Linked DNA regions of Homo sapiens: region 1 is reported to be linked to region 2. Evidence: microRNA targets listed by miRTarBase, many of them from high-throughput screens and not tested one by one. Region 2 holds a microRNA gene; the other region holds the end of a gene's coding sequence.

Region 1 (4,000 bases), not on the chromosome of region 2:
AGTCTGCACACCCTCGCTCTGCTCCCTGGCTCTCTGTTCTTAAGGCCCAGCTTCCCGTGCTGGACATCACCTGGGGATCTGGTTAAAATGCAGATTCTTATTTCTCAACTCTGGGGCAGGGCCTGAGCTCCTAGATTACTGGCAAGCTCCCTAGAAATGGCACTGCTGCTGGTCCCAGAGCCCCACTGTGTAGCAATGCCCTAGGGATTCTGGCCAGGGTCCCAGCCTCCCCTGCTGCCCAAGCTCCAGGTAGTGTTTCAGAATTGCAATTAAAAACATGGAGAGGGGCTTAACCCTTGGCAGGGGCAGGAAGTGGTCCCCCAAATTGAGGCAGCATTTATTCCCCTAAGTCCAGATATGATGAGCTGGAAAAGGATGGAAAGGATCCTTTTCCAGGCGATGGAAAGGATCTACCAGGAAGAATTAGCCCAGTAGAAAACGGAGACCCAGAGAGGGGACTGGCTTTTCCCAGGTTGCACAGCCAGCCTGTGGAAGAGGCCTGGGGATGCCGGTGGCCTGAGCTCTCTTCAGGCTTGTCTCATAGCCTGACTTCTGGGTACATGGACGTGGGGAATGGAGGGTCTGGCAAGCCCTGGGGACAGGGCCAGGGCTGTGGGGATCTGCAGCTGCTGTGTGTGGGAGGTGGACGCTGGGACGGCTCTCCCCTGGCAGAGTTAGCTCTCTGACCCTTTGGCAGCTGCCCTGGCTAGCCTGGGAGGGGTCAGCTGGGGATAGGCAGTAAATATAGATCTAGGGCAGGAAGCCAGGCGGCCCAGCCCTGCACTGACCTCTCGTTGGAAGTCTAGGGAGGGCAGATGTCCAGTCCTGGAACCCTCCTCTCCCGGGGTGGGGGACACCTAGCCCAGCAACACCCTAGAATTGCTGGAAGTGGTTGGGGGTAGGGGACAGAGCCTCCAAAGGGGACCAGGATGAGGGTAAGCAGAAAGCTGGCCAGGAGACGCTGTGCCTGTGTGGCCATGTGCCCTCTCTGGGCCTCTGTTTTCTTCTCTGGTCATCTCTGTCAAAGGTGCTGTCCAGCTTCCCGGTAAGGGGTCCACTGATCTAAAGGGAATTGGGGGCTCACAAGTATAAGGAGCAGGGGGCAAGGTCCCCTTACAGTCCCTCCTCCCACCCCCACAGGTCTTGCTTATTCAGGAGAGGAAGGAGTCTCAGAGCATAATCTCATCTCTTGCTCCCTACCCACTCTCTGGGTGCTGGCCTCCCACCCTAGGGCTCAGGGTCACACCTCAGCCTGGCTCCCCTTGCTGCATAGATGCAGCCCTGTGCCAGGCCCGTGCCACACACACCATGCCCACCTAGTTCAGCCAAGACCCCCGGGACCCCCGACTCTGGGAACGGGAATTCAGGCAAGGCAGCCACTCCAACACAGATACGTTTATTGGCAAAACCTATTCCCAGGCATCAAGGGGAAGGGTGCTAGCAGAGTGAATAATTTTTGTTTTTCACTTTCCTTGGCCATGTTCAAGGAGCAAGGGGAGGGGGAGACAGGGACATCCCAGTCAAGATAAGGAGGATCCCAGCAGCTCCCCTCCGAGGTTGGGCTCTTCACCAACCAAGGCCTTTTCTTGCACTGTCTCCTTTAATCCTTATAACAACACTGCAAGGTAGGTACCATTATCATCCCCATTTTACAGACGAGGAAACTGAACTGTAGCATGGGCGAAGTGGTGAAAGGTGGGTGTCAGCTTTCAGGGACAGGAGAGCCTCCCATGGACTGAGCTAGCCTGGGAGGTACAAATAATGTTACTCTATGTTGGGCTGGAACCCCACCACACACACATGTTGAGTCTGTGGCCCCCAAGGCTGATGTTTCCTTCCGTTTTTTTTTTTTTTTTTTTTTTTTTTTTGAGACAGGGTCTCGCTCTGTTGCCCAGGCTGGAGTGCAGTGGTGCAATCTTGGCTCACTGCAACCTCCACCTCCTGGGTTCAGGTGATTCTCTTGCCTCAGCCTTCTAAGTAGCTGGGATTACAGGTGCCTGCCACGAGACACCCAGCTAATTTTTGTATTTTTAGTAGTAACGGGGTTTCACCATGTTGGCCAGGCTGGTCTCAAACTCCTGACCTCAAATGATCCGCCCAACTTGGCCTCCCAAAGTGCTGGGATTACAAACGTGAGCCACTGCGCCCAGCCACCTCCTCTCTTTTCTACCACTTCCTGATTCTGTTTCCTCCATCTCTCACCACTTTCACGTCTTTCAACTCTTTTTATCTTTTTGTTTTATAAAAAAATAAATTTGCCCATGTTCTTGGAGAGCCTGCTGTCTCCTACCCCAATTGGTCAGATCTGGGTTCTCCCCAAGATTCAGTTTAGATGGAGTTGAGGATAATGGCTCTCAAATGAGGGGCCTGAAGTTGTGTGTGAAGCCAAACTATGTTGAAAACTCTTAGAAAATACGCAATTAATAAATTACAAACCCCCTCACTCTCCCGCCCCTACCTTCCCACCCTCCCCCACTCCCTATCCAAATGTAGAATCAACTGTACCTTGCCCCCCACCCCCACCCCAGGGCAGGGCTTGTCTCAGTCCCCTCGGAGTCCACTGATTCCGGGGCCCTCAGTAAATGTTTGTGGAATGAATGAATGAGTGAACTAATGAGTGTTTGGAGGGAGGAACCAAACACTTAGGAGGCCTGAGTCCCAGGCCCAATCCCTGGATCATCCTTGCCTGTACCTTGTCCTCACCAGGACGCCTCTCTCTGGGCCCAGAGAAGAGGGTCTCAAGGTAGGGGCTGGGAGCAGAGTGGGGAAGGGAGGAGTCACAGGGGAAGGGAAAGTGGACGCATGACTGACAGAGGACAGAGCTCGGACCTTGAAATCAGAAGGCCTGGTTCAAATCCCAGCTGCACGGCTCAGTTCAAATCCCAGCTATGTGACCTTGGGTACGTTCAAAGACAAATGATGACTGCTATAGAACAGTCCCTGTGGAGTTTACAAAGCCCTATTTTACATGTATCTTTGGTCCTCAGTAACCATCCTGTAATGTGGGTATTATCATCAATATACCCATTTTACAGAAGAGGAAATATAGGCTGGAAAGGTCAAGGGACTTGCCCAAGGTCACACAGCAAGCACCCCACCCGCTCACCCACCTCCTGCCTTTGCTTCTACCCCTGCCTGTGCTGGGAAGAGGGAGGGCTCAGATCTAAGTCTTCCAGCACGGGATCCCCAGTGAAAGTGTGGCAACAGGAGGGACTGTGCAACAAACCCCCTAATGTGGGCCCCATCGGCCATCCCCAGCCAGAAAAGCCAGGCTACCCTTTGTGGAAGGTCTCCTGGACACGCCTTCCTTCCCCACCCACAGCCCTGGGGCCTCAGCTGCTGCTCCAGGAGGATCCTGGAGTCCATGAGGTGCCCATGAACTTCTGCTTTTCCTTGGAAGGTGGGGATGTGGAATGGTGGGGGAGGGTCTAGGGCCTGGGCCCGCCCCTCACACAGGCATGGCCACTTCGTCGTATTCATCCCGACCTTCCTCCTCATCAAAGGTTGCCTTGGCATCATCAGCATCCAGCTGGAGGGGAGGGACAGGAGAGAGACAGGGTGAGAGACCCTGGGGCCAGAAGAGCCCTCCCCGGGCACGAAAGGCACCTCTGGAGTTAGGAGAGGGTCTGGCTGTCTTGAACCTTGGACCAGTCCTGTTTTATCTCCCCAGCAGCTAGGACTGGCCTAAATGAGTCGTTGTCAAAGTGAGAGGCAACCCCGGGGATGTGGACCCTGGCAGGGGAGGGCCTGCAGAGGGTGAGCAGGGGACCTTTTCACCAAGGCGGCCCCACAGTGACCTGAGTCACCCTGTGGAAGAATCCTATTAGAGGAGTGACTCTGTCCCAAATGACTCGGAAGACGGCAGGACTTGCTGCTTAGGGGTCCAGCTCACTCACAGCACACCCTGTCTGCCTCTTGACGCTCTCCCCAGTCGTGCCATCATTTCCCCCTTTACAGGTGAGCAAAATGAAGACACAGAGAAACAAGGCCCCGTGCTCCA
Region 2 (4,457 bases):
TTCCTCCTTCTTTAGTACTGGTCTTTTGTTTCTGGTTTATTAGCTTTGTTGCCTCTTGCTGTGAGCCATCTAAAAATGTTTGGAAAGAGGTAGCACATAACTGCAGTTAATTTTTTTCCCAATAATATTCTCTCTAGGGCCAAGAGCCTGGCTGGCAGAGCTCGGGTGGGTCCGTGTTTCCATCCCCAGAAGAGGCCCCGTCTGCTGCCAGCCCTGGCACTGAGCCCACTGGCACCTCAGAGCCACTGGGAACAGGCACTGTCTCAGCAGAACTGTCCAGCCCATGGGCTGCCAGGGACTCGGAGCAGAGTGAGTGCCCAGGTGTATGTGTGTGGCTGTATTGGAGTGGGCGCTGGGAGGGGTCAGGGCTAGGGCCCATTCTACTGCCTCCCAGCAGGTACTGATGCTCTGACAGACCCAGTCACGGATCCTGGACCCAACCCCTCTGACACAGCCATATGGCGCCGCATCTTTCAGTCCTCGTACATTCGGGAGCAGTATGTGCTCACCCACTGCTCTGCCAGCCCCGAGCCAGGCCCAGGCTCCACAGGCAGCAGTGAGTCCCCAGGCTCACAGGGCCCTGGCTCCCCCGAAGGTAGTGCTCCCTTGGAGCCCCCTTCTCAGCAGGGCTGCCGCAGTCTGGCCTGGGGAGAACCTGCAGGCTCCCGCTCCTGTCCCCTGCCTGCACCCACACCAGCTCCATTCAAGGTGAGATCCAACCCACATTCATTCGCCTTGTATCCAGCAAATATTTATTTACCACCTGCTGTGCACCAGATATTATGTAGAGTTTACTATTAAGTCTAGCTAGAGAGAAAGGTGGGTAAATCCCCAACGATACCATGTAACAACCAGTGATGAGCACAAGGACATGTATTAAGGGGGCTTAAAGTCAGGGTGACTAATTCTGCCTGAGAGAGTCAGGAAAGTCAGAGCCATATCTGGAAGAATAAGCACGAGTTAGCCATGCAGAGAGGGAGAAGACATAAACGAAAATACAGAGACAAGCAACAACCACAAGTGGGAAATAGGGAGTGGAGTGGGATGATGCTGGGAAGGGGCCAAGGCCAGAGGTCACTGTAGGCCATAAGGAACTTGGCCTTCCTCCTCAAGCTGGTGAGCGGCCACCCAGGGTTTCAGAAAAGGGGCATGGGCCAGCTGTGCACCCATGTATGATGGTCAAGGGTTCTGCATTCCTTGACCAGTGGCCCCCATATCTCACATGCAGGTGGGGGCCTTGAGTACTGAGGTGCTGGGCCGTCAGCACAGAGCGGCTCTGGCTGGCCGAAGCCTCTCATCCCCTCCAGGCCGGGCAAACCAAGTCCCCGGCCGACCCCGGAAACCCTCTTTGGGTGCAATACTAGATGGCCCAAGTCCTGAGCCAGGCCAACAGTTGGGACAAGGCCTGGATGACTCAGGTAAGTGTTGGATGGGGAGCTGGTTTCCCTGACACCAAAGAGGCCTTGGGGAGGTAAAGCCCAGAGGACCACTCTGCCCATGCCCCTGCTGTCTTGCCTCCCCAGGAAACCTGCTCTCCCCAGCCCCTATGGACTGGGACATGCTGATGGAACCACCCTTCTTATTCACGGCTGTGCCTCCTAGTGGGGAGTTGGCCCCTCCAGCAGTGCCTCCCCAGGCTCCACGCTGCCATGTGGTGATCCGGGGCCTGTGTGGGGAGCAGCCCATGTGCTGGGAGGTGGGTGTTGGGCTGGAGACACTGTGGGGACCTGGAGATGGCTCACAGCCTCCCTCACCTCCTGTAAGAGAAGCTGCTTGGGACCAAGCACTCCATCGGCTGACAGCAGCCTCTGTGGTCCGGGACAATGAGCAGCTGGCCCTCCGAGGAGGGGCAGAGACCACAGCTGACCGGGGTGAGTTGCTCATGGGTCCAGTCAGGACCCAAAGGCATGGGCTAAAAACAGCAAAGGTAGAGGTCTGTGTGTTTGATCACTCTCTATACCTCGCTTTGATCACAAAGGATTTGAGGCTCATCACAGACAAGATAAAAAATTAAGCGGGACAATGGGAAAAAGTAAAAATAAAAGGAAACTGAGAATGAGGTTATATTAAAGGTGCATGCTGTGAGGTTATATACTCTTGCAAGGATCAGATCCAGAACTGACAAGCTTCCTAGCAGCCAGCACAGAGGGCAACGTGATCCTGTCATGATTCACAGCACCCACAACGTAAAAACAAATCTTTGTCATTTAGGAAAATACTTAAAGTTCATTTCCTCAGTTGCACTAACCACAGCTGAAGTACTCAATAGTCAAATGTGACTAGTGGCTACCACATTGGATCATGAAGAGAGAGAACATTTCCAAGTTTTATTAGTGCAGAAGCAGGTGGAGGAAAATGTGCCAGCTAATGCTTCCTCTGGGTGTTGTCCAGAGTGCTGAATTTCTGGGCAGCCAGGGGGCTCTTGCTCTGCTATGGGTTGAAGATTCAGCCTGATCACTTCTTGTCAAAGTTGGGGAGTCTGAGCTGGTTCTGGGCCTAGCAAGGCAATCTACTCTGTTAAAGTCGATAGAGGGAGAAGCTGGGGAGAACACTGCAATTTTTTCTATGAGCCCTCTGTAGAGGGTGGGTGGTGGGGGCTCCACAGACTGCTCCTTGGTTCCACAGGCCATGCCCGGAGGTGCTGGCTTCGAGCCCTTCAGACAAGTAAGGTCAGCTCTGCCCCCTCCTGCTTCACTTGCCCTGTAGCTGTGGATGCTACTACTAGGGAGGTCCTGCCTGGGGCCCTGCAGGTGTGCAGCTCAGGTAGGGGCCTCTTCTGGTGACCTCTCAGGTGCAGCTCTCACCTCACTGGCCACTCTCCTGGACAAACCTGACTCCTGTCCCATGTGCCCCTGCAGAGCCCGCTGAGCCCCCAGGAACCCCTCCTGCCTCTCACAGCCATCTAGATGCAGCTCCTCTGCCCACTGTTGTCTACTCTAAAGGTAACACCCAAAGGTAGGGAAAGGGTAGGGGCACTTGGGCTTAGAGACCGCCCCCTGGCACTGATGATCCCCACTGCAGGACTTCAGAGAGGCTCTCCAGCAGGCGCCTGGGACTCGGACCAAAATGGCAACTCCAAGCGTGCTTTGGGGGACCCTGCCACTCCCACGGAAGGTCCTCGCCGCCCACCTCCCCGTCCTCCCTGTCGGCTCAGCATGGGCCGCCGTCACAAACTCTGTAGCCCTGACCCGGGCCAGGCCAACAACAGTGAAGGCAGCGACCATGACTACCTGCCCTTGGTGAGGACTCGGGAGGTGGAGGGTGGTGCCGCCGGGGCCGGGCGCTGTTTCAGCTCGCTTCTCCCCCCACCTCCTCTCTCCTCAGGTGCGGCTGCAGGAGGCACCAGGCTCCTTCCGCCTGGACGCGCCCTTCTGCGCCGCTGTGCGCATCTCGCAGGAGCGCCTCTGCCGTGCCTCGCCCTTTGCCGTGCACCGCGCCAGCCTCAGCCCCACCTCGGCCTCATTGCCCTGGGCACTTCTGGGCCCTGGTGTTGGCCAGGGTGACAGTGCCACGGCCTCCTGCAGCCCGTCCCCCAGCTCGGGCTCTGAGGGGCCAGGCCAGGTGGACAGTGGGCGGGGCTCAGACACCGAGGCCTCCGAGGGGGCGGAAGGGCTGGGCGGCACCGACCTGCGGGGCCGGACCTGGGCCACTGCCGTAGCACTCGCCTGGCTGGAGCACCGATGCGCCGCTGCCTTCGACGAGTGGGAACTGACAGCGGCCAAGGCTGATTGCTGGCTGCGGGCCCAGCACTTGCCTGACGGCCTTGACCTGGCCGCCCTCAAGGCCGCAGCCCGAGGGCTCTTCCTGCTACTGCGCCACTGGGACCAAAACCTGCAGCTACACCTGCTGTGCTACAGCCCAGCGAACGTGTGAAGGCTGCCCCCTGCTGCTTGGGCTGGCGCCCCACCCAACACACTCAAGTCACTGCCGCCCAGGGCTGGCCTCTTGGTGCTGGGAAAGTGTAGGCTGGTGCCAGCCTGTCCCCCACTGCTTCTTACTCCCTCCCTAGAGCCCTCTTGCCCCCACAAAAAGTGCCTGCCTGTGCTCTCTCCCTCTCCTCCCACCCCACTCACACTCCCCTCCATCCTCTGAGCTCCCTGCAACACAGTGGAAGGGTAGAGAGCCACAGTCCCCAAATCCTATGCAATAAAGTGCCTCTTAGGACTGCTTGAGTGAATTCTTTATCTGCTCCATACGTGTCCCTCACAGCCTGGACCAGGCATCGGCTGCCCCCACCTCCATGTAGGTTGCACAGAGTTGGACTTAGCAAGGTTTATTTGGAAGGGCAGAGTCCAACCAACCCCAGGTCCTGAGGGTAGACTCAGGTCCTGAGGGAAAGGGGTGGACTTCAGTGGGCTTTCTTGCTGTGTTGGGTGCTCTTGGGGAAAGGCTGCGGGCCCAGCCAGAGCTGCAGCAGGATGACGGCATGGCATATGTGCAGGGCAGCAGAGCTGCAG

The links. Region 2 holds the annotated microRNA hsa-miR-1224-3p (CCCCACCUCCUCUCUCCUCAG, at 3,304-3,324, shown strand). A microRNA usually pairs through its seed, bases 2 to 8, with sites in the 3' UTR of a target mRNA and lowers its output. Matches are read on the target gene's strand: a 7mer-m8 pairs with bases 2 to 8, a 7mer-A1 pairs with bases 2 to 7 and ends in A, and an 8mer does both.
Region 1: the mRNA of SLC4A1 is a reported target of hsa-miR-1224-3p. Seed matches in the 3' UTR shown: 7mer-m8 at 3,106-3,112 and 7mer-A1 at 2,461-2,467.

The regions. Positions count from the first base shown.
Region 1 is chr17:44,247,010-44,251,009 of GRCh38, forward strand. SLC4A1 (solute carrier family 4 member 1 (Diego blood group)) reads right to left here. Exons shown (of 20, transcript NM_000342.4): 20 at 1,381-3,529. The coding sequence ends at 3,449. Among named protein-coding and RNA genes, the nearest start is that of SLC4A1, 19 kb to the right of the region's middle.
Region 2 is chr3:184,238,166-184,242,622 of GRCh38, forward strand. It overlaps MIR1224 (microRNA 1224), which reads left to right and starts at 3,240; the gene lies at 3,240-3,324. It overlaps VWA5B2 (von Willebrand factor A domain containing 5B2), which reads left to right. Exons shown (of 20, transcript NM_001390846.1): 13 at 138-309; 14 at 398-708; 15 at 1,229-1,418; 16 at 1,524-1,871; 17 at 2,626-2,763; 18 at 2,859-2,942; 19 at 3,022-3,239; 20 at 3,325-4,164. The coding sequence ends at 3,873. ALG3 (ALG3 alpha-1,3- mannosyltransferase) reads right to left here. Exons shown (of 9, transcript NM_005787.6): 9 at 4,136-4,457. The coding sequence ends at 4,349. RefSeq lists a silencer at 3,756-4,050.